Linked DNA regions of Homo sapiens. The protein of the gene in region 6 interacts with the protein of the main gene of each other region in a pairwise test. Each region holds a gene or a part of one and is shown on either strand. Other genes may lie near its edges.

The links.
Region 1: the proteins of CTNNA3 (region 6) and ZNF662 interact in binary tests that used the Homo sapiens proteins (3 or more experiments, as listed by UniProt).
Region 2: the proteins of CTNNA3 (region 6) and PKP2 interact in a two-hybrid assay, tested with the Homo sapiens proteins (one study listed by IntAct).
Region 3: the proteins of CTNNA3 (region 6) and AKAP9 interact in a two-hybrid assay, tested with the Homo sapiens proteins (one large-scale study listed by BioGRID).
Region 4: the proteins of CTNNA3 (region 6) and CDSN interact in a two-hybrid assay, tested with the Homo sapiens proteins (one large-scale study listed by BioGRID).
Region 5: the proteins of CTNNA3 (region 6) and PPARA interact in a two-hybrid assay, tested with the Homo sapiens proteins (one large-scale study listed by BioGRID).
Region 7: the proteins of CTNNA3 (region 6) and EPS8 interact in a two-hybrid assay, tested with the Homo sapiens proteins (one large-scale study listed by BioGRID and IntAct).

The regions. Positions count from the first base shown.
Region 1 is NC_000003.12:42,912,192-42,916,283, reverse strand, and holds part of ZNF662 (zinc finger protein 662), read right to left. Parts: intron 3,084-4,092; coding exon 2,982-3,083; intron 1,958-2,981; coding exon 930-1,957; 3' UTR 1-929. UniProt on the Homo sapiens protein: May be involved in transcriptional regulation.
Region 2 is NC_000012.12:32,890,153-32,894,244, forward strand, and holds part of PKP2 (plakophilin-2), read right to left. Parts: intron 1-4,092. UniProt on the Homo sapiens protein: A component of desmosome cell-cell junctions which are required for positive regulation of cellular adhesion.
Region 3 is NC_000007.14:92,002,959-92,007,050, reverse strand, and holds part of AKAP9 (A-kinase anchor protein 9), read right to left. Parts: coding exon 3,816-4,092; intron 1-3,815. UniProt on the Homo sapiens protein: Scaffolding protein that assembles several protein kinases and phosphatases on the centrosome and Golgi apparatus. Required to maintain the integrity of the Golgi apparatus. Required for microtubule nucleation at the cis-side of the Golgi apparatus.
Region 4 is NC_000006.12:31,117,412-31,122,067, reverse strand, and holds the start of CDSN (corneodesmosin precursor), read left to right. Parts: upstream 1-1,621; 5' UTR 1,622-1,648; coding exon 1,649-1,733; intron 1,734-4,538; coding exon 4,539-4,656. UniProt on the Homo sapiens protein: Important for the epidermal barrier integrity.
Region 5 is NC_000022.11:46,219,881-46,223,972, reverse strand, and holds part of PPARA (peroxisome proliferator-activated receptor alpha), read right to left. Parts: coding exon 3,959-4,092; intron 1-3,958. UniProt on the Homo sapiens protein: Ligand-activated transcription factor. Key regulator of lipid metabolism. Activated by the endogenous ligand 1-palmitoyl-2-oleoyl-sn-glycerol-3-phosphocholine (16:0/18:1-GPC). Activated by oleylethanolamide, a naturally occurring lipid that regulates satiety.
Region 6 is NC_000010.11:67,686,196-67,690,287, forward strand, and holds part of CTNNA3 (catenin alpha-3), read right to left. Parts: intron 1-4,092. UniProt on the Homo sapiens protein: May be involved in formation of stretch-resistant cell-cell adhesion complexes.
Region 7 is NC_000012.12:15,619,242-15,622,711, reverse strand, and holds the end of EPS8 (epidermal growth factor receptor kinase substrate 8), read left to right. Parts: intron 1-1,281; coding exon 1,282-1,395; 3' UTR 1,396-2,578; downstream 2,579-3,470. UniProt on the Homo sapiens protein: Signaling adapter that controls various cellular protrusions by regulating actin cytoskeleton dynamics and architecture. Depending on its association with other signal transducers, can regulate different processes.

The DNA.
Region 1 (4,092 bases), on a different chromosome or scaffold from region 6:
TTAGAGTTCACAATTTAACTGCAATGTTGCTTCCATCAAATAAGGTTTTCAGTGAGACAGAATTATGAAAAGCAATACTAATAAACACTTGTATACAAAGAGTATCTACAGAGATACACAACCAGTAGCAGTGATTGCCTCTGGGGAGAACTCAAGAGATAGGAATGACAAGGAAATTTACTTTTCACTGAACACCCTTTTCAACTATTTCAATTCTTTTTTATCATGAGCATGTTATATCTAGTCAAAGATTAATGTTTCAGGATTTGAAAAACATAAAAGAAATGTACTGTTGGTCCTCAGAGTCATTTAGCTGGGGTTAAGATTAAAAGACATGAGACTATTAGAAAAATATAAGATGGCACATAATTAAATACTAACTTGGGTGGTACTGATTACAAGTAGAAGAGGAAGAGAGATCTTCTTAGTTGAAGGAGCTAGATCTGAGTGATGAAGGGAAACTAAAAGCACAGGAAAATAAGCAAATAAAAATGGGCAGAGACATAAATATGTACAATTAAGTAAAGAACAGTAAACTCTGCAGTCAGATAGGCCTGGCTCCAATTTCAACTCTATAACTTACTAACTGAGCAACCCTGAATGAGTTTTATAACCTCTTTCAACTCAGATTTCTCATTTGTAAAATGGGGAGAAGAGCACCTACCTTAATAGGATTGTTATGCAAATTAATGTATGTAAAGTGGTTAGCACCTGATACAGAGTAGCTGCCCAACTAAATGATGCCTTGTTAAAACATCATAGAACAGAGGGACCAGTCTTGCTAGAGTACATGGTAAATGTTCAAAAGGGCAAGATAATACTGGCTATTTAAGTTAAGGGTTACAGCAAATTGTGAATGGTCATCTCATTTTGTCTCTAGGGTTCCTGCAGCATAAGAATTATAAACAAGTATCACCATTATGCACTCTCTAATGTTCAAGAAGGTGAGAGATCTGACAGTTATAGGGTTTGTCTCTAGCATGGCGCCTCTGGTGCTTAATTAAGACAGAATTCTGACTGAAGGCCTTCCCACAGTCATTACATTTATAGGGTCTTTCCCCAGTATGGATTCTTTGATGTCGAATAAGATGTGCCTTGCAAAAGAAGCTTTTCCCACAGTCAGTACATTCATGAGGCTTGTCCCCAGTGTGGACCCTCTGGTGCTGAGAAAGATCTGAGTTCCACATGAAGCCCTTCCCACAGTCCTTACATTCGTAAGGCTTCTCCCCAGTGTGCATTCTCTGATGTCGAAGAAGGGCTGGGTTTCGAGTAAAGCTTTTCCCACATTCCTTACATGTGTATGGTTTCTCACCAGTGTGGATCCGTTGATGTTGCGTAAGGCTTGTGTTCTGACTAAAGCCCTTCCCACATTCCTTACATTCAAAGGGTTTCTCTCCAGTATGTATTCTCTGGTGACGAATCAGGTTTGACTTCCAAACAAAGGCCTTAGCACATTCTTGACATTCATAGGGTTTCACCCCACTGTGAATTCTCTGATGTGCAATGCAATGTGATCGAAAACTGAAAGCCTTCCCACATTCCTTACATCCATAGACCTTCTCTCCATTATGAGTTTTCTGGTGTTGATCAAAGTCCTCATTTTGATCAAAACACTTGCCGCATTCCTCACATATATAGAATATTTGCTCATTTAGAATTTTGTGATGTATACCAAGGAGGTTATTGACATCAGTATTCCCTGAACTCTCTTCTACTGAGATCATCTCATCCTTGACAATCACTTCTATAATATCATTTGTAGAACTTTCCATACGTCCCCCATTGAGGTAACCAGGCCATCTCCCTAACCTGCTTTTCTCTTCACAGGTTTTCCCAAACCATAATTCCTGGGATCCACACCACTGGGGTCCACTTGATAGGACCATGAGGTCCTGTGCTTCCTCAATAATTTCCTCCTTCAGAATAAAATCTTCTTTCTTCCTCTTCAACACACCCTCTGAAAAAAGAAATTGGAGCTTCAAATGTCATCATTATCCATGACACAGCGACTAAGGTCACCAAGTGGTATTAATACGTCCACTTCTCTCCAAGTGCCACCCATGTCTCAGTGGCCCTGTCCCAGCTGAAAATGGCAAAAACAAGGCTAATACACAGAAAGAAACCAAAAGTAAAGACAGCAACTAGATAGAATCCCTGCGGGCTATGATTCCTGGCACCAAACCAAGGACCAGGGTAGGCTCTCAGAAAACAGGTGAATTGAATCTAAGGAAAACAAAGTCAGAATTCCTCCTAGGTAGCTGAGTACAGTTTATACCATGAGAAGAACAGGCCAGGACTTAGGGCAGAGGACCTGTTCAGAAATAAGGAATCCTTAGTGGTATACCTGAGAACCTGGGCTTGTCACATGCAGCAGACAGTAGCAAGAATGAGCTTCCTCATACTTTTCAACACTAAAAGGAAGTATAGTCTTCTCTTTCAATCCAAGCACCAAGTTCACCATGAAACCATGGGAAGTGCTTTCTCAAACTACTCCAGGCAGAACTCGGAAAAGACTCCCTCCTCTTTGTTCTCATAGTGTCTTATTCACATTCTGTTACAGTTTCATCATTTTTCTGTAATTATACATTTATGTATCATGTCCCATGAGACTGTGAGTCCTTCCAGGATAAGGGCCATATATGACTTGATTTTTTTTATCTCTAACAACTAACACAATGAGTAAAATACAGCATCTACATTAAAAATATTGGGTGATCATAGCAGCTAGATGGGGCAGGCCATCTGTTCAGTTTAAGTCTAACGCAAAAGACCCATCCTAATTTAATTAATTTAATTAATTGAGCTTGTCCTAATGAAAGTTGGAAGCTTAGGGTTTAAGTTTTCTCTTAATTGGTTGATTTAAGGATCTGGTCCCCATATTTGTTTAGAACATGAATGGCAAAATGGACTTTTACATCTTATAAAAGAAAGATAGGAAAAGATGTGACTGAGAGAAGAATGCTCATTTCCCTCTCACTTACCCGGACAAATCAGGCTTGGACCCTCTCCTTGCAGTTTCAGGTTTAATGGCTCTTCCACCTGCTCAGGATGGGAAATCCCAGCAGGCTTTAGAAATGGATATCCTGCCAGGGTCAAGATACAAATAAGGCTGACTCAGTCAGAAGAGTGAGGCCCATCAGGAAAAGAGCAGACATGGAAGTGGTAGGGAGAGAATAAAGGTGGGTGAAAAGATTGGTAACATAGATAAGCAGAAATTTGATGGTACAGAATAATAAGGATAGGCTGGGCGTGGTGGCTCACACCTGTATTCCCAGCACTTTGGGAGGCCGAGGTGGGTGGATCACCTGAGGTCAGGAGTTCAAGACTAGCCTGGCCAACATGGTGAAACCCCATCTCCATTAAAAATACAAAAAAAATTAGCCAAGCATGGTGGCACACACCTGTGGTCACAGCTCCTCAGGAGGCTGAGGCAGGAGAATCGCTTGAACCCGGGAGGCAGAGGTTGCAGTGAGCCGAGACTGTGTCACTGCTCTCCAGCCTGGGCGACAGAGTGAGACTGTGTCTCAAAAAATATATATATATATATTTATATATATAAAAAATATATATATATATTTATATATATAAAATATATATATATTTATATATATAAAAAATATATATATATATTTATATATATATAAAATATATAAATATATATTTTATAGAAAAATATTTGTATTTTATATAAATATATTTATATATAAAATATGTATTTATATATATATTTATATTAAATATATAAATATATGTATTTATATATTAAATATACAAATATATAATATATAAATATATATTAAATATATAAAAATATATATTATAACATATAATATATAATATACAAAAATATTATATATATATTAATATATATAATATATAATATATAAATATATATTATATATATTTAATATATCATATATAATATATAATTATATATGATATATATCATATATAATAGAGAGATGGACTATATATATCATATATTTTATATATAATTATATTTATATATAATATATAAGATATATATTATATTTTTATTTATATATTTATATATATTTTATTTATATGATTATATATTTTATATATACATAT
Region 2 (4,092 bases), on a different chromosome or scaffold from region 6:
GTTTACTATCATTCTTTTATCTGTATGGCTTGTGTATTTATCTGTAATATTTTGGTGGCCTATAAATTCATATTATCTGTCAAGAAAAGTTCCCATTTGTTTTCATTCTTCAATGAAAAAGAGTAATCAAGATCCAATAAGCTTGATGCTCACCCACACCCACCCCATAAATAGCTTACTGAGAGATTCAGAAAAAATAATCCATTAAGCTTCTAATGAAGGTTTTCATCCACAAATTCTGGAAATCAAGGAATTGCAGAACTTTGATTATGACTGCTTAGGTTAACGAATGTTATTAAGTCTAAAGCTGATTATTCCAAGAATATAAATATGTGAATTATTTTAATAGTAATGGCAGGTTGTGTTTTCAAATGCTTAAGTTTCTTTTTTTCCAACTGTCCATTTTTATTTAAATCTACATATTGAGCTCTCAAGCTTTTGTCTTTAAACACTTTAAGAACATTACAACTGTTTTTATGTCCAATATCCAATTACCAGAAATGGCATTATAGAAAAGATACACAGGCCGGGTGCGGTGGCTCACGCCTGAGATCCCAGCACTTTGGGAGGCAGAGGTGGGCGGATCACCTGAGGTCAGGAGTTCGAGACCATCCTGGCCAACATGGTGAAACCCTGTCTCTACTAAAAATACAAAAAATTAGCTGGGCTTGGTGGCGGGTGCCTGTAATCCCAGCTACTCGGGAGGCTGAGGCAGGAAAATCGCTTGAACTCGGGAGGCAGAGGTTGCAGTGAGCCGAGATCGTACCACCGCACTCCAGCCTGGGCAACAAGAGCGAAACAAAAAAAAAAAAAAAAGAAAAGAAAAGACACACAACAGGTTTTTAATGTTTTTATTATGAGAGCACTTGATAGTTTGTTTAGTAGTCTTACTCTACTAGTCAGGGGAGCCAGGTGGCTCACTCTAATAGAAAAATAAAGTTTTCTCCTAATTTATTGTCTATTCCCACTTGCATTGCTGCCTTTTACTGCTAATTTACTTCCTCAGGAGAAGTAGGGTATTTATCTTCATATATTTGTAGACATGCACAAGATACCTGAAGTCCAACATTTGTCTCAGAATTGTATAATTTAAACTTGTTGAATGTCATCTGAGATGGAAATAAATCATCTTATAGGCCATATTAATCATCTGATTTATAAACTCCAGAGGTTTTAGCATCATATTTATTATATTTCATTACTATCATAGTTTGCCAATAATATGCTTGTTCTCTCAGAGAAAAAAAATCAAAACTTTTAATAATTTGTATTGATCAGACTAGGAATTCAATTGTAGGGTAAAATCAATGTTAAAATGTGAAGATAAAATAATGTAACTATGTATAGGCTTATTTTAATAAATGAGAAAAAACTGTAAAGTTGCTATCTAAAACTTTGAGGAAATGTGAACTACAAATACCTAGAATATTTAATACAAAAGCTACCCTCTGTTCCCATGACTGTGGAACTCTTAGCACAGGGCATACAGATAACAACAGTCTTTTAAAAGCCTAAATGAACAGTCTTCCTTCCTTTAAGGTAATTTCCTGCGTCTTATCTGTCACATATAGAACAATGTACTTTCATAATCAAACCCTGCTACTCTGGGTCTACTTGTGGTTTCTTACAGTTCCACGGATTCTGAAGCATCCTTACTTTACCCTCACACAAAACTTCACCCCTAAGAGATGTGTTCTCAACATTTCCAGGGGTGTGAAGTTTTTTTTGTTGTTGTTGTTAACTACCATTTTGTTAACATTCTATTTCACTTACTATAATCAGAAGGATTTCTTTAATTATTTTTGGACTTACCGAACTCAATCTGCTTGGCCCTGGACAAAAAGTGGCTCACAGGCCATATTACACAGACACAGAGGTGCATTTAATCCAGTGTGCTACTGACACCTCACATTCAGAGCAGAGGGCCATGACCCTGCCACCCGCCATCTCACTCTTTTTTTTCCCTTTCCTGATCCCTCCTACTTTCTGAACGATTAGTCACCTTGCTCCCCAGAATTGCTTCATTCCTGGGATTCCTTTTTGTCAAAGGAAGAATTTATGCAGAATTTGAACAATGTCTAACTTTTTTTTAACAGTAGCGCCTAGTAACTACCTTTCTTTTGCTACCCTGAGCCAATTTTCAATTCTCTCTCCAGAATTCACTTTTTTTTTTTTTTTTGAGATGGAGTCTCACTCCATCGCCCAGGCTGGAGGCAGTGGCATGATCTTGGCTCACTGAAACCTCTGACTCCCAGGTTCAAGCAATTCTCCTGCCTCAGGCTCCCTAGTAGCTGGGATTACAGGTATGCACCACCACACCTGGCTAATTTGTTTTTTATTTTTAGTAGACACAGGGTTTCACCATGTTGGCCAGGCTGATCTCAAACTCCTGACCTCAGGTAATCCACCCGTCTCGGCCTCCTAAAATGGTGAGACTACAGGCATGAGTCACTGCGCCCAGCCCAGAATTCACTTTGATCACAGATATTGAAAAGCAGCTTCACCAAGGAAATCACCTAAGATAATAGTGTGCCTCAAGTTTTGTGGTGGATTTCCAAAGAGGTTGTAAATATAATTGCATTAGGAGATTGTTCACTGTCCTTTATAAGTAGTAAATACAATTTAAAACACAATTTTCTCTCCACTCAGATACCTGGGGTGGGGGCGGGGGGGGGGGGAGAACTGTGTAGCAAGTAGTACTTTTAAGGCAAGTGTAATAAATAGGATATGGATGCTTTTAATTTTTCCCTTTGCCAATACTTGCAATTCTTAAATGTCTTCTATTTTAGAAAAATATTTTAACTATTAGCTACAATACAGACTTACTTCACAATGCTGCTATACACCTCTGAAGGCCCCTTCCCAAAGAGTTACAGCCAACTTTAAAATGTTCAGCACAGTTAAAAATAACACCAAAAGTCACTGAGTGATTTACAATGAAAACCACCCAGCTATACTAAGGCATTGGAAAGAAGACAAAGGGTTAAAGACTCTTGCAAGATACTTATCAACAAATCAGCCACATTTATCTCATCTCTGCTTTCAGCAGGTTATCCGCTGTCTCAACCTTACAGGTTTGTCAACAACTCAGAATTCTCCAGGGCCCTGGAGCTAATAGCAGTTAACATCAGGGTCTTTTCTTCCTGGAATTTCTTGTGTTGATACAGGATTTTTTCCAGACCAGCACTGTTTCAACAATTGCTTGTCTGTTTCAACTTGAGAGACAGGATAGTAACATGGAAATAATAAAAATTATACTCAGAACCACCACGAGCCCCCAGACCTTTTCAAAGAAGTTTAATTAAACAATACATACGAACCACCCCTGGTAATTGTTTCATGGCATGCTAATGTTAAATTCCTTTGAAGCTGATTTCCTTTTTGAGTCTTAGAAAGCTGAGGCTTTAAAGTAAGTAGGTGTTGTTTGCTGCCTTATCTCTCTGTCTGATTTGTACTTCTGTGTAGGCTGCAGAGTGTATTTCAGCTTACTGGAAAGCTGCTGTTGCAATCAAAATATTTCAAACGCTTTGTTCCTTAGTTGGAACAGCCAGTCAAGTAGTTGACCCAAGCATTATAGCAGAAGGACCAAGATAGTGCCCTTTGTTCTACCATATCAACTCTGTGAACTGTGAAATATTCATTCTGTTCCCTCCTAGAATGATCTTTCTCCAGTCACCTCCCTATGTCCAGTCCTACTGAATTTTTGAGATCTACCTCCAGGAAGCTTTTCAAAATTTCCTGCCACCAGGAGTAACTTACTTTTTTTTTTTTTTTTTTTTTTTTTGAGATGGCGTTTCGCTCTTGTTGCTCAGGCTGGAGTGCAATGGCGAGATCTCCGCTCACTGCAACTTCTACCTCCCGGGTTCAAGCGATTCTCCTGCCTCAGCCTTCCGAGTAGCTGAGTAGCTGGGATTACCGGCATGTGCCACCACGCCCGGCTAATTTTGTATTTTTAGTAGAGATGGGATTTTACCATGTTGGTCAGGCTGGTCTCAAACTCCCGACCTCAGGTGATCCTCCCGCCTCGGCCTCCCAAAGTGCTGCAATTACAGGCATGAGTCACTGCGCCCAGCCAATTTACACTTCTAAACT
Region 3 (4,092 bases), on a different chromosome or scaffold from region 6:
CCTTTTATTCATGAATTCATTCATTCATTTAAAAAAATTATTAACTGCCTATCATGTGTCAGACATTATTCTAGGCATTAGAGATACAGGAGACTGGGTCCCTGTTCTCAAGGAGCTGATATTCTAGTGGTTCCTCCTGTAGTTTCTAAGCTCCGGTATCTCTTTTGATTCTAATAATCATCTTCAATTTTAAACACATACACTTCAATCTATGACCTCTCCCAGCATCAATAATTAATCAGTATCTAAAAAATTCCTGCCACTCTTCCTTCTTCCTTGCATCCCAACACTGAAAAGACTTCTATGATGTTTTTATTTTTCTCCTTCTGCCCAAACTACCTAAGTGTATTAGAGATATCTGTGTGGCATCCACATTATTTCAAGCATATTTAGGCTGCTCTTAGGTGTTACTATTGTGTAAGTCACTGCTCGATTTCTTCTGTGAACTTCCCTTCCCATCAATAAAGGTTTGTCTTGGTAATGATGAACGGGCAGGAAGTTTACAGGCTTTACTTTATGTAGTCAATGTCAAATAGAGGGAATCTGAATGCCATCAAAAGTATCTTTTTAGTATCTCTTTAGTACAGAAAATAGAATTCTGGCTGGTGACAAAGACTCATGCCTGTAATCCCAGCATTTCAGGAGGCCAAGGCAAGAAGATCATTTAAGCCCAGAAGTTTGAGACCAGCCTGGGCAACATGGCAAATCCCTGTCTCTACAAAAAATACAAAAACCTAGCTGGGTGTGTGGTGCATGCCTGTAATACTAGCTACTCAGGAGGCTGAGGTGAGAGGATCACCTGAGTCCAGGAGGTCAAGGCTGCAGGATGCTGTGATTGCGCCATGAGACTCTAGCCTGGACGGCAGTGAGAGCCTGTCTCAAAAAAAAAAGAAAAAGAAAAAGAAAATTAGAATTCCTAATAAGAAAATTTGACCATCTGAGGGTCAAATTCAGGTCTTCTCCCAAAAATGCTTCCTAAAAAATTTTAAAAGATGTGTGACATTTTCACAAGTAACTGCCATACATTTTGGTTTTGAAAACAATTCCAGACATTTAACAGAACATTAACAGTTAAGCAATTTGGCCAGGCATGGTGGCTCACGCCTGTAATCCCAGCACTTTGGGAGGCCGAGGCTGTTGGATCACCTAAGGTCAGGAGTTTGAGACCAAACTGGCCAACATGGTGAAACCTTGTCTCTACTAAAAATACAAAAATTACCCAGGCGTGGTGGTGGTGCATGCCTGTAATCCCAGCTACTCAGGAGGCTGAGGCAGGAGAATTGATTGAACCCGGGAGGCGGAGGTTGTAGTGAGCTGAGATCACGCCACTGCACTCCAGCCCGGGTGACAGAGTGAGACTCGGTCTCAAAAACAAACAAACAAAAAAATCGTTAAGCAATTCGAATTTCTTGACTCTATTTAGGCAAGTAAATATATAAAATATCTCTACATTTGATATAAATCATAAATATAAAATATCTCGACATTTGATATAAGATCATAAATATGATATATTTAGGAATAAAAAGAGAAAACTTTCCAATGGCTTCCAAAGTCTGCAAGATTCTCCAAGGTCTGGTCTCTTCCTCCTTCAAACTCTTCTTCCACTCTCCCGCTCTCTCAAACTCAACTACACAAGCCTTCATTCTGTTCTTTAAACTTACCCGTGTCTTTACAATTGCTCTAATTTCAATGTCATTCAGATTTCAGCTCAAATGTCAATTCCTCCTAGAGATGTTTCCTGACCACCATATTTAATGTTGTTACTACCCTCTCCAACATTCCCAATATCCTGATGAACATCGATGCAAAAATCCTCAATAAAATACTGGCAAACCAAATGCAGCAGCACATCAGAAAGCTCATCCACCATGATCAAGTGGGCTTCATCCCTGGGATGCAAGGCTGGTTCAACATACGCAAATCAGTAAGTGTAATCCAGCATATAAACAGAACCAAAGACAAAAACCACATGATTATCTCAATAGATGCAGAAAAGGCCTTGGACAAAATTCAACAGCACTTCATGCTAAAAACTCTCAATAAATTAGGTACTGATGGGGCATATCTCAAAATAGTAAGAGCTATTTATGACAAACCCACAGCCAATATCATACTGAATGGACAAAAACCGGAAGCATTCCCTTTGAAAACTGGCACAAGACAGGGATGCCCTCTCTCACCACTCCTATTCAACATAGTGTTGGAAGTTCTGGCCAGGGAAATCAGGCAGGAGAAAGAAATAAAGGGTATTCAATTAGGAAAAGAGGAAGTCAAATTGTCCCTGTTTGCAGATGACGTGATTGTATATCTAGAAAACCCCATCGTCTCAGCCCAAAATCTCCTTAAGCTGATAAGCAACTTCAGCAAAGTCTCAGGATACAAAATCAATGTGCAAAAATCACAAGCATTCTTATACACCAACAACAGACGAACAGAGAGCCAAATCATGAGTGAACTCCCATTCACAATTGCTTCAATGAGAATAAAATACCTAGGAATCCAACTTACAAGGGATATGAAGGGCCTCTTCAAGGAGAACTACAAACGACTGCTCAACGAAATAAAAGAGGATACAAACAAATGGAAGAACATTCCATGCTCATGGATAGGAAGAATCAATATTGTGAAAATGGCCATACTGCCCAAGGTAATTTATAGATTCAATGCCATTCCCATCAGGAATGACTTTCTTCACAGAAATGACTTTCTTCACAGAATTGGAAAAAACTACTTTAAAGTTCATAAGGAACCAAAAAAGAGCCCACATTGCCAAGTCAATCCTAAGCCAAGAGAACAAAGCTGGAGGCATCACGCTACCTGACTTCAAACTATACTACAAGGCTACAGTAACCAAAACAGCATGGTACTGGTACCAAAACAGAGATATAGACCAATGGAACAGAACAGAGCCCTCAGAAATAATTCCATCATTCCCTATCACATTATCCTGTTTTATTTCTTCAGAGAATTTATCACTATTTCTCACTATCCTACTTGTTTCATTTATCATCTGCCTCCCTCACTAAAATATATGCTCTTTGAGACCAGAAACCTCTCTCTTGTTGGCCACTATATTCGTACTTGCCAAGAGAGTCAATAAATATGTTAGAAAAATGAAGAAACACATAAAACTTTAGTTAGCACCATTACATTGTAGATAGCAGAATTTTCCTGTTATTTTAATATCAGTATCTGGCAAATATAAATTATCAGGAGTGATCTATTATTATATACATATAATTCTTTAACTATATTTAGAGTTAATACTGTTTTTTCCCCTTCAGGTATAATAAAGACTCTGAAAAAACTCTAGGACTTAAATCAAAGGTTTTTTTTTCTCCCAGGAAAATATAATTTCATAACCACCTAACAACTATAGAGACTATTAAAAAGCTTAGGAGTTCATTTTCAGTTGTAGAGACTTGAAAACATCACTATGAAATAAAAACGCTGAAACCAATCTTTGAGATTATAACAAAAATTACAAAATGAAATTAATAACTTTTCTAATGCTGAGATTCTCCATAAAGTTATACAAACTCTTGTCTTTCCAAAGAAAATCTGAATCCATTAGTGTTTTATTTCCTGAGCAGAATATACAAGATAGATTAACTGAAAGAAAGGCAACAATGGTTTAAAAAAAAAAGTACTTAAATGATAAATAAATGATAGGCTCAAGTTAAAATTACATCAGAGGGTTCATTTTCATTCTCTTGTAAGGATATGAACTTATGTTCTATGAAGGTGAAACCTTAGTGTGAAATGTACATTTTTTTCATTGTGCTTTACCATATATGAAGAAGTAAACATACCTGTTCTGATTTAAGTACATTGAGTTCTTTCTGAAGTTTATCATTTTCACTTGGTTGAGTTGCTCTAAGTGATGATTCCTTTGTTACAGATGGTAAGTGATCCAAAATCAACTGTTCTTGCTTACTTTCTTCTCCAACAGTCATATTTTCAAAAGAAACTTTATCTTCCACCATTATTTTTGATTCTTCACCAAAACTTTTATTTACTTTAGAAACTGATCCTTCAGCACCCCTGCTTGTCATGGTCACAACTCCATCTAATAAAGAGCTTACTTGA
Region 4 (4,656 bases), on a different chromosome or scaffold from region 6:
TTGTTTGTTTGTTTTTCCCAAGGCATTAGCCCCCTTCAGGGGACCCTGTCCTATCCCTTCCTCTCTCCACAGCTCCCTCAGCCCCTCTTTCCTCCCACTCCCATTCTGAGTGTCACTAGCAAGTCAAGAGCAAGACTAGATGGCAGCCACTAGCTGCACGTGGCCAACCACATCATTACAATTAATTAAAATTAAAGCTCCAAATCTTTGGTGGTTAAACTTGCTCCATGTGGCCAGTGGCTACCGTATCGGACAGCACAGACAGGAAACATTTCCATCCTCCTGCTGGTCTGAACTTAAAGGGCGGTCAGGAGGTAGAGGGAATGGGAGAGACCAGGCCAAGGGGCCCAGGGACAGAGCTGCCTTTGTGAGGAGATGAGGTTTGGGAAGTGAGTTTGGGTGAGGGGAGCAGGGGTGTCTGAGGCCTGGGGGAGGAGAGGGCAGCTTGCTGGACTCCCAGGCACCTCCCTCCGATACTGATACTCCCGCAATACTAGTGAGCAATTAATTGGCTGGGGCGGGGCAGGGGCCAGAGCAGGAGGGAGGCCAACGCAATGGAGGAGAAGCCACCACCCTCTCAGCAGATGGCAGGGCTCCGGTTCTCCTGGCCTCCTTTCATCCTTTGAGGACCCGGGAGCCTGCCTGGCCCTCCTCGACCTGCCCAGAGCTGGCTGCTGCTTCCTGCTCGCTCATCCAGCCCAGGGCCAGCAGATGGGCTATGGGGCCACCACCTTCCCAATTAGCCTTCTTAGCCTCTTGCTCACCCTTGAGGTCTGGGTTACCAGCCATGGGGAGGGGCTGTGAGTGCCCTGTGAGTAACCAAGGCCCAGCTTTGACAGAGGTCATCAGCCCAGGCCCCTCCCCTGGCTGAGCCCTGGCTCCCAGCACCCCCCCACCCCCGCCACCATGCCGTCCCCAGAGGCCCCCAGAAGCGACAGGTCAGGGAGTTGGTTTTGGGAATGTGGTGCCCCATTTCTGAGAAGGAGAAAGTTCCCCAGGTGATGGAACACGTAATAGGTATGTGGCTGGCCTGGTACTTGGGGAGTGGTGGGAGGGGGAGCCTGGGGGATGGGGGCAGAACTCATATTTGAAGGAGGAAAGTGGAGGTGGAGTGATGGGGTCCTAAGGAAGGAGCAGATCAGGGGCTGTGAATGGGACCTCATTGGGGTTGGGTGGGTGGGGCTGGAGCGGGCACCCAAGTGTGGAAGAAAAAGCTGAAACACCCACGACTGCGAGTGGAGGGCAGATGGAGAGACAGGCCAAGCTACGGTAGGCAGGAGAGTTAAGGAGCCAGGCAGCTGGGTCCCGTGGCAAGAGTGGCCGCCCCAGAGTGGGTGGCCGTGGGGCAGAGCGCCTGGTTCCGGGTTAGGCAATGAGGAGCCGGGGCCAGGCCTGTCAGGTGGCAGGATCGTTAGAGCCCCGTGGCCATGGGTACCCCACACTGCAGCCACTGCTGCTGCTGAGTAGGCAGATGCACCGGGCTGATTACCACGCTCCTCCCGGCCACACCAACTTCCCCTGGGGCACCCACCCCCTCCACCTCTCCTCCTCTCCCCACAGTGACTCCTGCCCAGGGAATGTCCAGCTCTGGCATAAAGGACCCGGGTGTCCTTGAGCTGCCATCAGTCAGGAGGCCGTGCAGTCCGAGATGGGCTCGTCTCGGGCACCCTGGATGGGGCGTGTGGGTGGGCACGGGATGATGGCACTGCTGCTGGCTGGTCTCCTCCTGCCAGGTAGGAGGCTGGGGGCCCTGGGAACAGGAGGGAGGCGGGAGGGAGACTCCGGGAGAGGACCCAGCGAAGGGGACAGGCAGGGGCTCTGGAATCTGCCTTTTGAGTCTGGGGGTTGCTCCTCACTGTATGGTCGCCTCAGGTAAGTTTCTTAAACTTCCTGAGCCCCAGTTTCTGAAACTCTGAAGTGGGGTTAATGACACCTAACTCTAGTCTGTGTGTCTCAAATTAAATAATGTATGTGATATGTACTTTGGAAATTCTAGAGGTTTATATAAATGGTGGTGGTGATTTTTATTATGGGAGCACTACAAGATAATGATTGGACATTTAATAGTAATAATATCATTTTTAGAGCCTTTTTATATGCTAGACTCTGTTTTAAGCACATTTGGATTATATATTAGAACTTTTATTTTTATTTTTTTTTGTGAGATGGAGTCCCACTCTGTCTCCAAGGCTGGAGTGCAGTGGCGTAATCTCGGCTCACTGCAACTTCCACCTCTCAGGTTCAAGCGACTCTCATGCCTCAGCCTCTAGAGTAGCTGGGACTACAGGTGCCCATCACCACACCTGGCTAATTTTCTTTTTTTTGTATTTTTAGTAGAAACAGGGTTTCACCATTTTGGTCAAGCTGGTCTTGAACTCCTGACTCAAGTGATCCGCTCGCCTCAGCCTCCCAAGGTGCTGGGATTACAGGCATGAGCCACCACACCCGGCCTATATTAGCACTTTTGATCATTACAAGAACGGTATGAAAGGAGATTTGCTATTTCCACTCTACAGATGAGGACACTGAGGCTCAGAGAAGTTAGGAAAGTAGCTCAAGATCATGCATTAGAAGGCAGCAAAGCCAAGATTTCAACCCCAGGCCGGGCAACCCCTGGACCTGTGTTGTTGACCACCGGGTACTTATAGCCCTTGAGGAATTTCTGCGACCTTCCCATGGTCTAGTGGGTGGTTGGTGTCTGAGGGAATAGCGAAAGAGAGAGGCAATGCATGGTGGATTCGTGCAGAGGACTGAAGGGAATTGGCACAGCTGGGGTTCGGCGTGGAGGTGCATGCAGAGAATTTCTTTCTGAGGAGAGAACAGGGACATCACAGAGGATGGCAGTCTGGTTGTTGGTGGAGGGATCAGGATGAGTGGCAGTAATAATTCATAATATATAATGCTTTACACTTTCTAAAACATCTGGCCGCACATGATAGCTTGTGCCTGTAATCCCAACATTTCAGGAGGCCAAGGCAGGTGAATCGCCTGAGGTTAGGAGTTCAAGACCAGCCTGGCCAAGATGGTGAAACCCCCTCTCTACTAAAAATACAAAAAATTAGCTGGGTGTGGTGGCGGGCACCTGTGGTCCCAGCTACTTGGGAGGCTGAGGCAGGAGAATCGCTTGCACCAAGGAGGCAGAGGTTACAGTGAGCTGAGACCGTGTTATTGCACTTTAGCCTGGGCAACAAGAAACTCCATCTCACAAAAAAAAAAAAAAAAAAGAAGAAGAAGAAAAAACTTCCAGGTGGATGATCTCATTTAGTTTTCTTCATAGTAATGCTGTGGGAAGGCAGGGAAAATTTGGCCCCTCTGAATGTATAAACTAAAGCTCAGAGAGGTTCAGTAACTTGCTAGTATGTGGCTCTGTTTGTAACACGTGGGACCTGGAGGGGCTAGGGAAGGCAGAAGGAACGCAGGTGAAAGAGTCATGGAGGAACCACGGGGTAAGTTGGGCCTGGGGTTTTGAGCAAAGGAAAGGAAAGATAAGGAAAGATGTGGCTCCACATCCCTGAGGGAAGTCAAGGCAGCAGAAGTCAGATGAGGGGCTGGACAGAGGCAGGTGTGCTCAGAGAGGGAAGCTGATTGTGGCCAGGAGCCTCGGAGGTTCGTGGGGTTTCGTCCTGGTTCCCTGGGCTGGGCCAGCGAGAGCAGGGCTGGCTCAGGGTGCGGTGTCCTGACACACTGGTACCAGCAGGTTCTGAAGCAACAGGTAGTGACCCCACATCCTGGCCCCCACCCAGCTTTACTGGCATGGCCAGTGCTGAGATAGGAAATAGGGTTTCCATTCCTGACCCCAGCCTGGGCTCTCACGAAGAAGCTGGTGACCAAATCTTAGTCCTCGAGTGCCCTTTCCTTTATTTCAGCCCCTCTGCCCCCAGCTTTGTCTTTTTCCAGTGTCTCCTTCTATATGTGTCTCCACTTCTCAGCCCTCCATTGTTTTGCCTTTTGTCTTCTTCCCTTTGGTCCCACTGTCTGGCCCAGGATTTTTCCCCTAAGAATTTACGCCTGGACTCCTCAGAGCCTCAGTTTCCCCAATTCTCTGTCTCTTCAGGGTCCTTTCTTTTAGACCTACTTGTTCCTGCCCCTTCTCCATTCCCTCTTCTTTTTAAAAAAAATTTTAATTAAAAAACAAAATACAGACGGGGTCTATGTTGCCCAGGCTGGTCTTGAACTCTGGGGCGCATGCAATCCTCCCACCTCGGCCTCCCAAAGTGCTGGGATTACCGGCGTGAGCCACTGTGCCCAGCCCCCTCTTATATTCAATGTATTCCTTTGAGGCCACTCACTTTGGCACCTAATTTTCTATTTTTCTGGTTGGTGTTTGCCCACCCTTCCCAAACAAAGAAATGCCTTTATTCGGCCACCTCAATATCCTTTAGAGACAATAGCCAGTTCTTCCTCCTTTCTCCATCCCTAAACTCTCCCTGCGCTCTGCTTGGGAGAAACCCGAGAGGCCGATGACTGAGATAAGGCAGAAAGGTGAGGGAGGAAGCCAAGCCTCCTTGGCCCTTACTAACCACTGCTTTCCTCCACAGGGACCTTGGCTAAGAGCATTGGCACCTTCTCAGACCCTTGTAAGGACCCCACGCGTATCACCTCCCCTAACGACCCCTGCCTCACTGGGAAGGGTGACTCCAGCGGTTTCAGTAGCTA
Region 5 (4,092 bases), on a different chromosome or scaffold from region 6:
TTTCTTTCTTTTTTTTTTTTTTTGAGATGGAGTCTCACTCTGTCACCCAGGCTGGAGTGCACCGGTGTGATCTCGGCTCCCTGCAACCTCCACCTCCCAGGTTCACGCCATTCTCCTGCCTCAGCCTCCCGAATAGATGGGACTACAGGCGCACACTGCCATGCCCGGCTAATTTTTTGTATTTTAGTAGAGATGGGGTTTTACCATGTTGCCCAGGCTGGTCTCGAACTCCTGAGCTCAGGTAATCCGCCCTCCTCTGCCTCCCACAGTGCTGGGATTACAGGCATAAGCATGAGCAACCACGCCTGGCCCTCTTTTTTTTTTTTTTTTGAGATGGAGTCTCGCTCTGTCACCCAGGCTGGAGTGCAGTGGTGTGATCTCGGCTCACTGCAACCTCTGCCTTCCAGGTTCAAGCAATTCTCCTGCCTCAGCCTCCTGGGTAGTTGGGATTACAGGTGCCCACGACCATGCCTAGCTAATTTTTGTATTTTTAGTAGAGACGGGGTTTCACCATATTGGTCAGGCTGGTCTCCAACTCCTGACCTCAGGTGATCCACCTGCCTCAGCCTCCCAAAGTGCTGGGATTACAGGCATGAGCCACCGCGCCTGGCCTATTATTTATTTCTTTAAGGCCAAAATGCAAACAGATTCCCGCCTGCTAGTTGCTGCATGTGACCCTCAGCTGAGGGTGATGGGGTTCCTAGAGCTTGGTGGTCTCCAAGGGGAGGTGCAGGAGGACTCCAGGAGTCCCATTCGCACCCCATGGTGGGGGCAGGTTGTTAGGAAGAAAGACAACTTAACTCTGCTTCGAATTTTTTTTAGAGAGTCTCGCTTTGTCGCCTAGGCTGGAGTGCAGTGGCGCGATCGTGGCTCGCTGCAGCCTTGAACTCCTGGCCTCAAGGCATCCTCCTCAACCTCCCAAGTCGCGGGGACTATAGGCATGTGCCACCATGCCTGGATAATGTTTTTATTTTTTGTAGAGATGTGGTCTTGCCATGTTGCCCAGGTTGGTTTTGAACTCCTGGGCTCAAGCCATCCTCCCATCTCAGCTTCCCAAGTACCTGGGACCACAGGCACATGCCACCATGCCCAGCTAGTTTTTTAAAAAATCATTTTTTGTAGAGACGAGGTCTCCTTGTGTTGCCTGGTCTCAAACTCTTGGATTGCCTCAAGTGATCCTCCCGCCTCAGCCTCCCAAAGTGCTGGGATTACAGTGTGAGCCACTGTGCCCAGCCTGCTTTCAATTCTGAAATCCAAGGGAGAAATATAAGCTGGCAAACAAAAGTTTTAGCCATCCCAATTTTGGGCTGTACTAATCATATCCAGGATAGAGACTCGAAGCTAAAAGTTACCTTTTCTTTCACTCTCGTAATCCAGGAAAGTTCTAATTGGGACAAGCCTCTGGAGCTGCCTAGTGTGGGTGTCTGCTGGAAACTTCTAAAATGTCTCGGCCTATTTAATTGGAGAATTCACTGAAGAATTAAAGGACTCAGTAAAGAAGAGGTTTGGTTTGTTCATGAAAGTAAGTAGCTTGTGAAATGCTTTATTTTCCTGTGACTAAAATTCCACCTTGTAATTCCCAATAAGGATTGCTTCAAGCTATTTAATACAAATTAAACCTGTTTCACCATGCTCATAGGAAAATGTCAAAGTATCTTCATTCACCAACTGAGGGCTGGCTCTTCTTTGAAGGTAGCTCTGAGATTTGTTTTGTAATGGAGACAAAGACTTATTTAACTGTTGGGGAGGGGGAAGGAGGACTTAGGCCAGGCAGGCGGGGATGTGGGGGACGAACCATGAGGGGCAATTTGGCTGCCTCTGAAAAGGTCCAGAGCTACCTTAAAAGACAGGCTTTCTATAACAAGTGGTCCTTTCTTTTCCTTTCTTTTTTTTTTTGAGACAGAGTCTCACTCTGTTGCCCAAGCTGGAGTGCAGTGGTGCGATCTCAGCTCACTGCAACCTCCAGCTCCCAGGTTCAAGCAATTCTCCTGCCTCAGCCTCCCAAGTAGCTGGGATTACAGGCAACCGCTACCATGCCCAGCTAATTTTTTGTATTTTTAATAGAGATGGGGTTTCACCATGTTGGCCAGGGTGGTCTCAAACTCCTGACCTCAAGTGATCCACCCACCTCAGCCTCCCAAAGTGCTGGGATTACAGACATGAGCCACCGCGCCCAGACACAGCTGGCTTTGTCGCCCAGGCTGGAAGTGCAGTGGCACGATCTCGGCTCACTGCAAGCTCTGCCTCCTGGGTTCACGCCATTCTCCTGCCTCAGCTTCCCAAGTAGCTGAGACTACAGGCGCCCGCCACCACGCCCGGCTAATTTTTTGTATTTTTAGTGGAGATGGTGTTTCACCATGTTAGCCAGGATGGTCTTGATCTCCTGACCTCGTGATCCGCCTGTCTTGGCCTCCCAAAGTGCTGGGATGACAGGCGTGAGCCACCACGCCTGGCTTACAAGTGGCCCTTTCTAAGCCCCAAGATGTCACTGTCTTTTCACTGAAGGCGGAAAAAGAATGTAGGCATGTTTGTCTGAGAGGGAGGGAGTAGTTTTAGGAGAAAGGACCAAGAGCACATTTTGAGTGGGAAGTAAGTGGTTTCCTTTTCTAGCCTTATGATATGGTTTGGCTCTGTGTCCCCACCCAAATCTCATGGTGAACTGTAATCCCCAGTGGTGGAGGTGAGGCCTGGCGGGAGGGACTGGATCATGGGGGTGATCCTTCATGAATGGTTTAGCACCATCCTCTTGGTGCTACTCTAGTGATAGCGTTCTCACAAGATCTGATGGGTGAAAAGTGTGTGTCTCTTGTTTTTGCTCCTGCCATGCAAGACGCCTACTCCCACTTCACCTTCTGCTATGAGTCAAATTCCCTGAGGCCTCCCCAGAAGCAGAAGCTTCCTGTACAGCCTTGTGGGCCACGAGCCAATTAAACCTCTTTTCTTTATAAATTACCAGGTCTCAGGGATTTCTTTATAGCAGACTAATACACCTCAAAGTAGGGATTTATTTTATTATTCTATTTTTTTTTTGAGATAGGGTCTCGATCTGTCACCCAGGCTGGAGTGCAGTGGCATGATCTCAGCTTGCTGTAACCTCTGCCTCCCGGGTTGAAGCAATTCTCATGCCTAAGCCACCCAAGTAGCTGGAATTACAGGTGTGTGCCACCCTGCTCAGCTAATTTTTGTATCTTTAGTAGAGTTGGGGTTTCTCCATGTTGGCCAGGCTGGTATCAAACTCCTGGACTCAAGCAATCTGCCCACCTTGGCCTCCCCAGAGTGCCAGGATTACAGGCATGACCCATCTTGCCTGGTCAGTTTTTTTTTTTTTAAATCCAGTTAATGCTGGGTGCCATGACTCACACCTGTAATGCCAGTGCTTTGGGAGGCCGAGGTGGGAAGATCACTTGAGGCCAGGAGTTTGAGACCAGCCTGGGAAACATCTCATCTCTACCAAAAAACAAAAACAAAACAAAACAACAACAACATCAAACATAGCCAGGTGTGGTGGTGCACACCTGTAGTCCCAGCTCCTTGGGAGGCTGAGGCAGGAGGATTGCTTGAGCCCAGGAGTTCAAGGCTGCAGTGAACTATGATTGCACCACTGCATTCCAGCCTGGGCAACAGAGCAAGAACCTATCTCTATTTAAGAAAAAATGCTCCTAAGAAATCATCTTAGTACTTGGTAAGCTATTAAGGTTTTTTTTAAGTGTATTAATTACATAGCCAGTATAATAACTTAGTTGCTAAGAGCTTTGAGGTGGCTCCAAGCAAGAAGAAAGGAGTTGTTGTTAAGCTACAGCTCAGAGTCTCAGAATGAACTGTTTCCATCTTCGCTGTCCTTTGCTTAACTGTGGGATAAATATAATTTTCTCAACATTCAACACATGTGTCCTTAATCGTCCTCTACGACACTGGTTCCATGTTGCCAAGAGAACCCAGAACAGCCGCAAACACCTACTGGATTGTTACTGGCCTTTCCTGAGAGGATGACCCGGGCTTTGACCTTGTTCATGTTGAAGTTCTTCAAGTAGGCCTCGTAGATTCTCTTGGCCAGAGATTTGAGATCTGCAGTTTCAGAATCTTCTATGTCAT
Region 6 (4,092 bases):
TCCCTTTCCCAGTTCTAAGGCTTGGGTAAGTGCCACTAGTTCTGCTAACTGGGTGCTGGTCCCTGGGGGAAGAGGCTTAGTTTCAAGTACTGTTACTATGGCATAACCTGCCCTTCGTATCCCATTCTCCACAAATGAACTTTCATCGGTATATAGGTTAAGGTCAGGATTAGCTAAGGGGACTTCTAAGAGATCATCTTGGGTGGCATAAGTCTGGACTATAACCTGTTGGTAGCCATGCTTGACCAGCTCCTCATCCTCTGGTAGAAAAGTGGCAGGGCTGAGGGCCACACATGTATGCACTTGAAGCACTGGTCCCTCAAGGAGTAGCGCCTGGTATCTAAGCAGGCGGTTGTCTGATAACCATAAACTTCCTTTGGCACCTAGTATGCCATTTACATTGTGAGTAGTCCAGACAGTGAGATCCTTTCCTTGTATTATTTTGATAGCCTCTGACACTAAGACAGCCACCGCCACAACTACCTGTAAACAGTGAGGCCAGACTTTTGCTACTATATCAATTTCCTTACTTAGGTATGTCACTGATTGTGGGGTTGTCCCATGAGTCTGAGTAAGGACCCCAAGAGCTATTCCTGCTCTCTTTGTGATGTATAAAGAAAAGTTTTGTCCTGTGGGAAGGCTTAAGGATGGACCTTGAGTTTGTTCCTTCCAATGCCCAGACTTCAGGGTTGATTCCCTCCTCAAGCAGGGGACAACAAATGGGTAACTTGTTCCCCATATTCATAGATAATAGCTCCAGCTTTGGCTAATATGTCCCTCCCTAATAAGGGTGTGGGACTTTCAGACACAACAAGAAAGGCATGTGAAAAGAGCAAAGTCTCCCAGTTACAACTGAGGAGGTGGGAGAAATACCTGGTTACAGGCCATCCCAGGATTCCTCAGATGGTAACGGACCTTGAGGACAGCTGTCCAGGACAGGAGATTAACACTGAGAAGGCCATGCCAGTGTCCAGGAGGAAATCAATTTCCTGGCCCTCAATGGTTAAACATACCCGGGGCTCAGTGAGGGTGATGACATGAGCTGGCACTTGCCCCGGGCATCCTCAGTCCTGTTGTTGGATCATCTGGTTGGGGGCTTCTGGCCCAGAGAACCATTGTACTCTGGGGCAGTGAGCCTTCCAGTGATTGCCTCCGCATAGTGGACATGGGTGAGGGAGCAGCTTATTTCTAGTAGGACAATCTTTTTTAAAGTGTCCTTGCAAACCATACTGAATACAAGCCCTACCAGGTGATTGACCTGCTCTATTTTCTGTCCTCTCTGAACCACCAAGGTTTGTTTGTCTGAGGGCCATGACTAAGGCTGTGGCCTTTCTCTGATCTTGCTTTTCTTTTTGGGCCTGTTTCTCTTGGTCCCTATTATAGAACACCGAGGTTGCCAGGTTTAATAATGCCTCCAGATTTTGTTCAGGGCGCAAGGCTCGCTTTTGGAGCTTTCTCCTGATATCTGTGGCTGATTAGGTAATAAACTTATCTTTTAGAATCAATTGACCCTCGAGTGGGTCGGGTGACAGGAGAGTATATTTTCTTAAGGCCTCCCATAGCTGTTCGAGGAAGGCAGAAGGATTTTCTTCCTTTCCCTGAGTTACGGTGGACATCATTGAATAATTCACAGGCTTTTTCCTAATTCTCCTTAGTCCTTCTAAAACACAGGTCAACAGATGTTTGCAACTCCAGTCCCCATGATCTGAGTCGAGGTCCCAGTGGGGATCCATACTGGGGATGGCTTGCTGACCAGTAGGGAATTTGCCCCTTTCTTCGACTGTCATTCTATCATTTACTTGACTAAGATACCAGGTATCTCCAAACTCTCGGGCTGCAACTAAAGCCACATTCTTTTCATTAAAGGCCAGAGTTTGACCTAATAGCATGATATCTCTCCAAGTGAGGTCAAAGGTTTGCCCTAGACCCTGTAAGACATCTATATACCTAACAGGATCATCTGAAAACTTCCCCAGATCTGCCTTGATCTGCTTTAAATCAGAGAGGGAGAAGGGGACATGTACCCGGGTTGGGCCAAATTCCCCTCCCCCTACAGCTTGAAGGGGACATAAATGATAGCTCAGGGGTTTTTGTGGTCCTTTGGAGATTTCTTTGTTTGTTTCCTTCTGGGTGGGGGAGATTAGAGGAGGCTTATCATTAATAGGAAGGGGAGCTATAGGGAGGCTAGGATATGGAGGTAAGCTGAGAGGTCCTCCTGTGGGATGTAAATTGCAAGTTTTGCATAGTTGTGTATTCTCCTTCAATGAAAAGAAAGCTTGGACATAAGGTATTTCACTCCATTTGCCTTCCTTCTTACAGAAAAAGTCAAGCTGCAGGATAGGATTGTACTTTATACTTCCTTCAGGTGGCCATCTTTCCCATCAGAGAGAGAATATTGGGGCCAGGCCATAGTGCAGAAAAAAGTTAGCTGCCTCTTTTTCAGGGTTTGCAGGTCAAATTGGTCCCAATGGCTTAGGATGCATTTCAAGGGTGAGCCTGTTGATGCCTGAGTGTTTCCCATCTGAAAGACAAAACCACCCTTGGTCTTGGTTTGTTTCTACCCCTCCCCAAGAACCCACAATAGTCCCTGGACCCTGCTGATTGGAATAGTTGCACTTACTGATGCAGCAACAGAAACACCTCTTGCCCAAGAACCCGCAACGGTCCCTGGACCCTGCTGATCAGAATAGTTGTGCTCACCGACGCAGCATCAGAAACACTAGTTTTCCTCTTAGACCAAAAAGAGGACCGAGGAAGGTCAGATTTAGTGGCCCTTACTGATGCATTCTCAAAAACCTGCATTCTTGCCTGTCCTCTTAGACCACAAAGAGGACCAAGAAAAATTGGATTTAGTGGCCCTTACCGATGCATTCTCAAAAAGCTGTTAGAGTCCTAAGCATTATCCTGTTAGTATTGGGACCTTACCACTGTCCTATAAAGATGTTATGCCCCAAAAATGAACTGGACGGACATACCCTGAGAGAGGGAAAGGATCTCCAGAGTTGGAAGAGTGATGCTTTTTGTCCTCACTTATATGAATAGGAAAGATACCATTTCCGAAGCTCCCCATATCCTAGCTTCAGGAATAGCTTTTGTTAGGCCTGCTTGTCTGAAGAGGGATCCTAAAATTCCAGATAGTCCCTTGCCCAGATGGGACTTTGGGCAAAAATTATGTCTTTCTGATTGGTGAGCCCGGGTGCCTAAAGAAGGTAAAAGAGTCCTGAAGTTTATACTAGAAATCATTCTTATAGGAGAAACTAGAAAAGCACCAGAGACAGGGAGTGCTTTTTAGAAGTGGACTAGCCTCAGAGAAGAGAGGCGAGAGGAAGTTTGTCTGACAGGCATTAGGACCCAGGAGGCAAGGGTCAGGAGATAGGATAGATGGGCAAGTCTCGCTTGGGTGACATGATTTTGAGAGTTCCACTCATGGCCGCAGGGTCAACCAACTTGTTGTTGGGACCCCGGAGCTGAATGGCTTTCCTCTCTGTCAACCCTCGGCTCAGCCTGGAAGTACCATTAAAGTGGAAGCTGGCTCCAGGCAAACCAACATTCCCAACTCCATAGAGTCAGGGATTGTTAGAGAGCCCTATCCCAGAAAGCCTGGCACCTGTGTCTTTAGTCCAGCGGCCGCGCTAGTTGCTTTTAGCTGACCGACAGGTGCCCAGTATTTACCCCCAGAATTCTAAGGAAAAACAGGACAGAATAGCAAGCAAAAGGGGTCTGATGGTACTCATCACTTGGCAATAGGCGAGAGTCCCATCTGGGTTGCCAAAATGTGTCCAGAATTGGTTGCTTCTGGTGGGTTCTTGGTCTCGCTGACTTCAAGAATGAAGCCGCAGACCCCACGGTGACTGTTACCACTCTTAAAGATGGTGTGTCTGGAGTTTATTCCTTCAGATGTTCATATGTGTCCGGAGTTACTCCCTTCCGGTGGGTTCGTGGTCTTGCTGACTTCAGGAGTGAAGCCACAGACCTTCACAGTGAGTGTTACGGCTCTTAAAGGCAGCACGTCTGGAGTTGTTTGTTCCTCCCAGTGGGTTCATGATCTGGCTGACTTCAGGAATGAAGCCACAGACCCTCACGGTGAGTGTT
Region 7 (3,470 bases), on a different chromosome or scaffold from region 6:
AATAATCGGGAAAGATACATTAGGTAGAGATCACTGAAAATAGAGAGCCTGGAAAAGTATTTAATCACAATGGTCTGTATGAAAGCAGGAGAGTCATGTTTTCTAGATTGCTTTATACTTAAGCTTCCAATATCCTATTTTAGACTTAAAATGTGCTATATACGGGTAGTAGTTTCCAACTGTTACATCTCACAGCTCTTAATAGTTTCATGAAAATTATACTTGGACTCAAATGAAAGAATGTAGGCTTTGGCATGAAATTGATCCATAATCATCTCTAGCAGGTATATTCTATAAATTCAACAGTTAAATAATTCAGGGTAAAATCACTTCATGCGTATCACCCCGTAGCCATTCTGAATCAAGAGAAACCATATTTCCCTTGGAGGTTTTCCCTACAACATTGATCTTGAAGGCTCCATATTAAAGTTTGATTTGATTGCTTTCCATATGTTGAATATTAATAAGGATTATATATTTTTCTCAAGCAGTTTTATTACCACTATATTTAATTTTGTTGAGAGTATATAATTACTTCTTCAAGGTATGTTAGAAAATGCCATATTCCTAAAATTCTGAATTCCTTCATCCCACACCTGCCTATCATTATTGTCATTTGCTGTCACCACCCACTTCAGGATGGTCTCTTGCTTCTTGTTCTCTTCCTATTCTCTGCATGGGAACTGAGGCAGAGGCTGACTACCTGAGGTTCTTCATGTTCCTCAGCCACCTTCTACCACCTCACCCTTTCCTTGGATCTAGTTAATCTTTTAGATTATTTGCCTGTGTTGCCAGAGACTTCTGTTGATGGGAAAGGAGAAAAGCCAGCATGGTCGGAGGGTCAGAACTATATGGAGGGGAAACTGGGTGAATTCTGAGCCCACTCTGGCCTGAGTTAAAATCTTCTAAAGGCAGATCAGTATCTTGTTTGAGCCCAAAAGAGTCCTTTGATAATTTACCATGTTATTATGCTTATTGTACACATTTCCTCTTTCTCTCAGCAAACCTAGAGTACTATACATACATTATTGATTTATCTTTATCATGTTCAAATGAAAGGCCTGGTGAGTGAATTGCCTTAACAGACTTTACAAAATGAAAAATTATTAATGTGATATATTAGTGAAGTGCAGAAGCTTCACTTAAAAAGTAGAGCTGTTAGCTTTCCTAAAGAGATACTAGAAGAAAACCACAGTAGAATTTTATCCTGAGCCATTTCATGATATGACCTGCAGCCTGCACAAGTCAGTAACTATCTTGTCTGAACTGTTTATCTTTCAGGATAGCAGTGGCAGCTCCGAGTTACAAGAAATTATGAGAAGACGACAGGAAAAAATCAGTGCTGCCGCTAGTGATTCAGGAGTGGAATCTTTTGATGAAGGAAGCAGTCACTAATTTGTTTGTTTGTATTTAAACTCCATTGTTTTTGGCATTATTCCAACATGCTTTGTTTTAAGAAGCCTTGAAGGGAATGTCAGATTCATTTTTCTTGATGTAATTTATCACCATAAAAAAAAACCCATGCAAACCTGAGTGAGCACAGGATTTGCTTCTAGGCCCATTATTTTTATTAAAACTGAAAAAATTTAAACTGAATTTTTTGACCTTGGAAAATATTTTTCTTACTTTACCAAGGTGAAGTTTCCTTAATTAGACTAATTATTTTATCCCCATCCCAGGGTATAAACAGGAATTGTTTTGATAGTGGTGGAGTTATTCACTGCAACAAAGCAACAATGTTGTCCATGATTCAAAATCTAAGCAGTTTCGATTTTGCCTGTGAATATGGTGTCTGTCATTCAGGGCATAGCTCACTGTAGGCTAGCCTCTGCTTACTTAAGTCTCTTCTCTGACATACTCAATGGAAGAATATTTAGATTTATTTAAAGTTCTTAATGCCAACAGTTTAAAAAAAAATTAAAACATTTGAATGAACTGTAAAGTACAGCCATACCTTGGACATGCAAATATAAATCTATGGAGCATTCTCAAGAGAGTTTGTCATGGCTCTGTTGATTGCAACTCCTTGTATAGCTTGTATTTTGATTTAGTTTATATTCTGCTTATTATGTATACTGTGTTCTTATATATGAGAAAGCACAAATGCGAAAGAGGTCATGTCTTCTCAAAATCTAGCAAAGGAAGTAGTCTGCATTGGTGTGCATTACAGTATTTTGCTTAATGAAAGCCTCAGTTCTGAATGTTGATATGAGTAGTTAAAAGGAAGTGGGGCCATTTTATGTGTTTATCTGTGTCAAGTATTTCTGGTAATAAGAAGCACTTAATTTACACATATTTTAATCCTGTGAAAGATTCCACATAGAGAAAAGAAAGATACCTAACCTTCAACAAATGTTATTTTTGGAAACACAATTTTTGTCATTAAATGTTATATTATTTCACATATATAAAACAGATGTTATGTAAGAATGTTGTATATTTTAACATAAATCATTTAGAGAAATTATCTAGATTCATTAATTTTCATAGTGCCTTTTTCACATGAGTCAGCTGGAAAGTCTGCAATAAACAGTATTTGCTGTCTGTTAATAAATGGTTTCTGTCTCATTAGCAAAAAGGATCTGTGCTAGATCGGCTGAGGATTCGAGTTGAATGCAATGGGAAAAAGTAGAGATCCACATTTTAAAAAAACTATATATTATTCTATTTCTGAGTGGGTAGAGAAACTCTAGAATACTTTTTTCGGTTGTTTTTCTTCTTTTCGCCTCTTGTTTCATCATCTTTTCCTTCTACCATCTAGTCATATTTGGTAATGGTAATGGAACTAATTTACACTGCGCTTACGATTGCTAAATGCTTCCATATAAATGCTTTCCTGGATATTTACAACAACTCTATATGAATTATTACAGATGAGGAGATTTAGCTTCCTAGAAGCTAATTTTCCCCAGATCCTGAAGGATGTGGGAGTTTCTCATCTTCTATCTCTCGGTCTCTCTATAACACTGCCCTTTGGATAAAGTGGAACAAACATGAGCATGATAAAGGTGAATTAGTTTAGATCTTTTACATTTCATAAGGACTGATACATATGTATAATTTAGCCTTTATTGAAAGGGATAAGATGAAAGAAAATAAGATCCAAAAGTTAAGATAACCTGCGTGTAAAATAGCAGACGGATATGAAAAGAATTGGTGTAATTTACATCTTTATGCTATAAGATGCCAAAGGAATGTATCACAGAGGTAGTAATTGCAGAAAGCAGTCACATCAGCTAAGGATGTGGGGACAAAGAGAAGAGGTTCCTGGAATTTAGAATCTTGAGGGAGCAGCACCACAGAATTTGGATCCAGACATCTGAGGGGTTTGGTCACTGGTATCTGAGGATTTGAGGAAAGACCCCACAAAGCTAACAGGGGGACACAGCCTAATCAGTGTTTTTGCCTCAGGTATTCAGAAAAGATTTCAGGAATTGAACAACAGGTCAGAAAATCCATGGCTCTGGGAC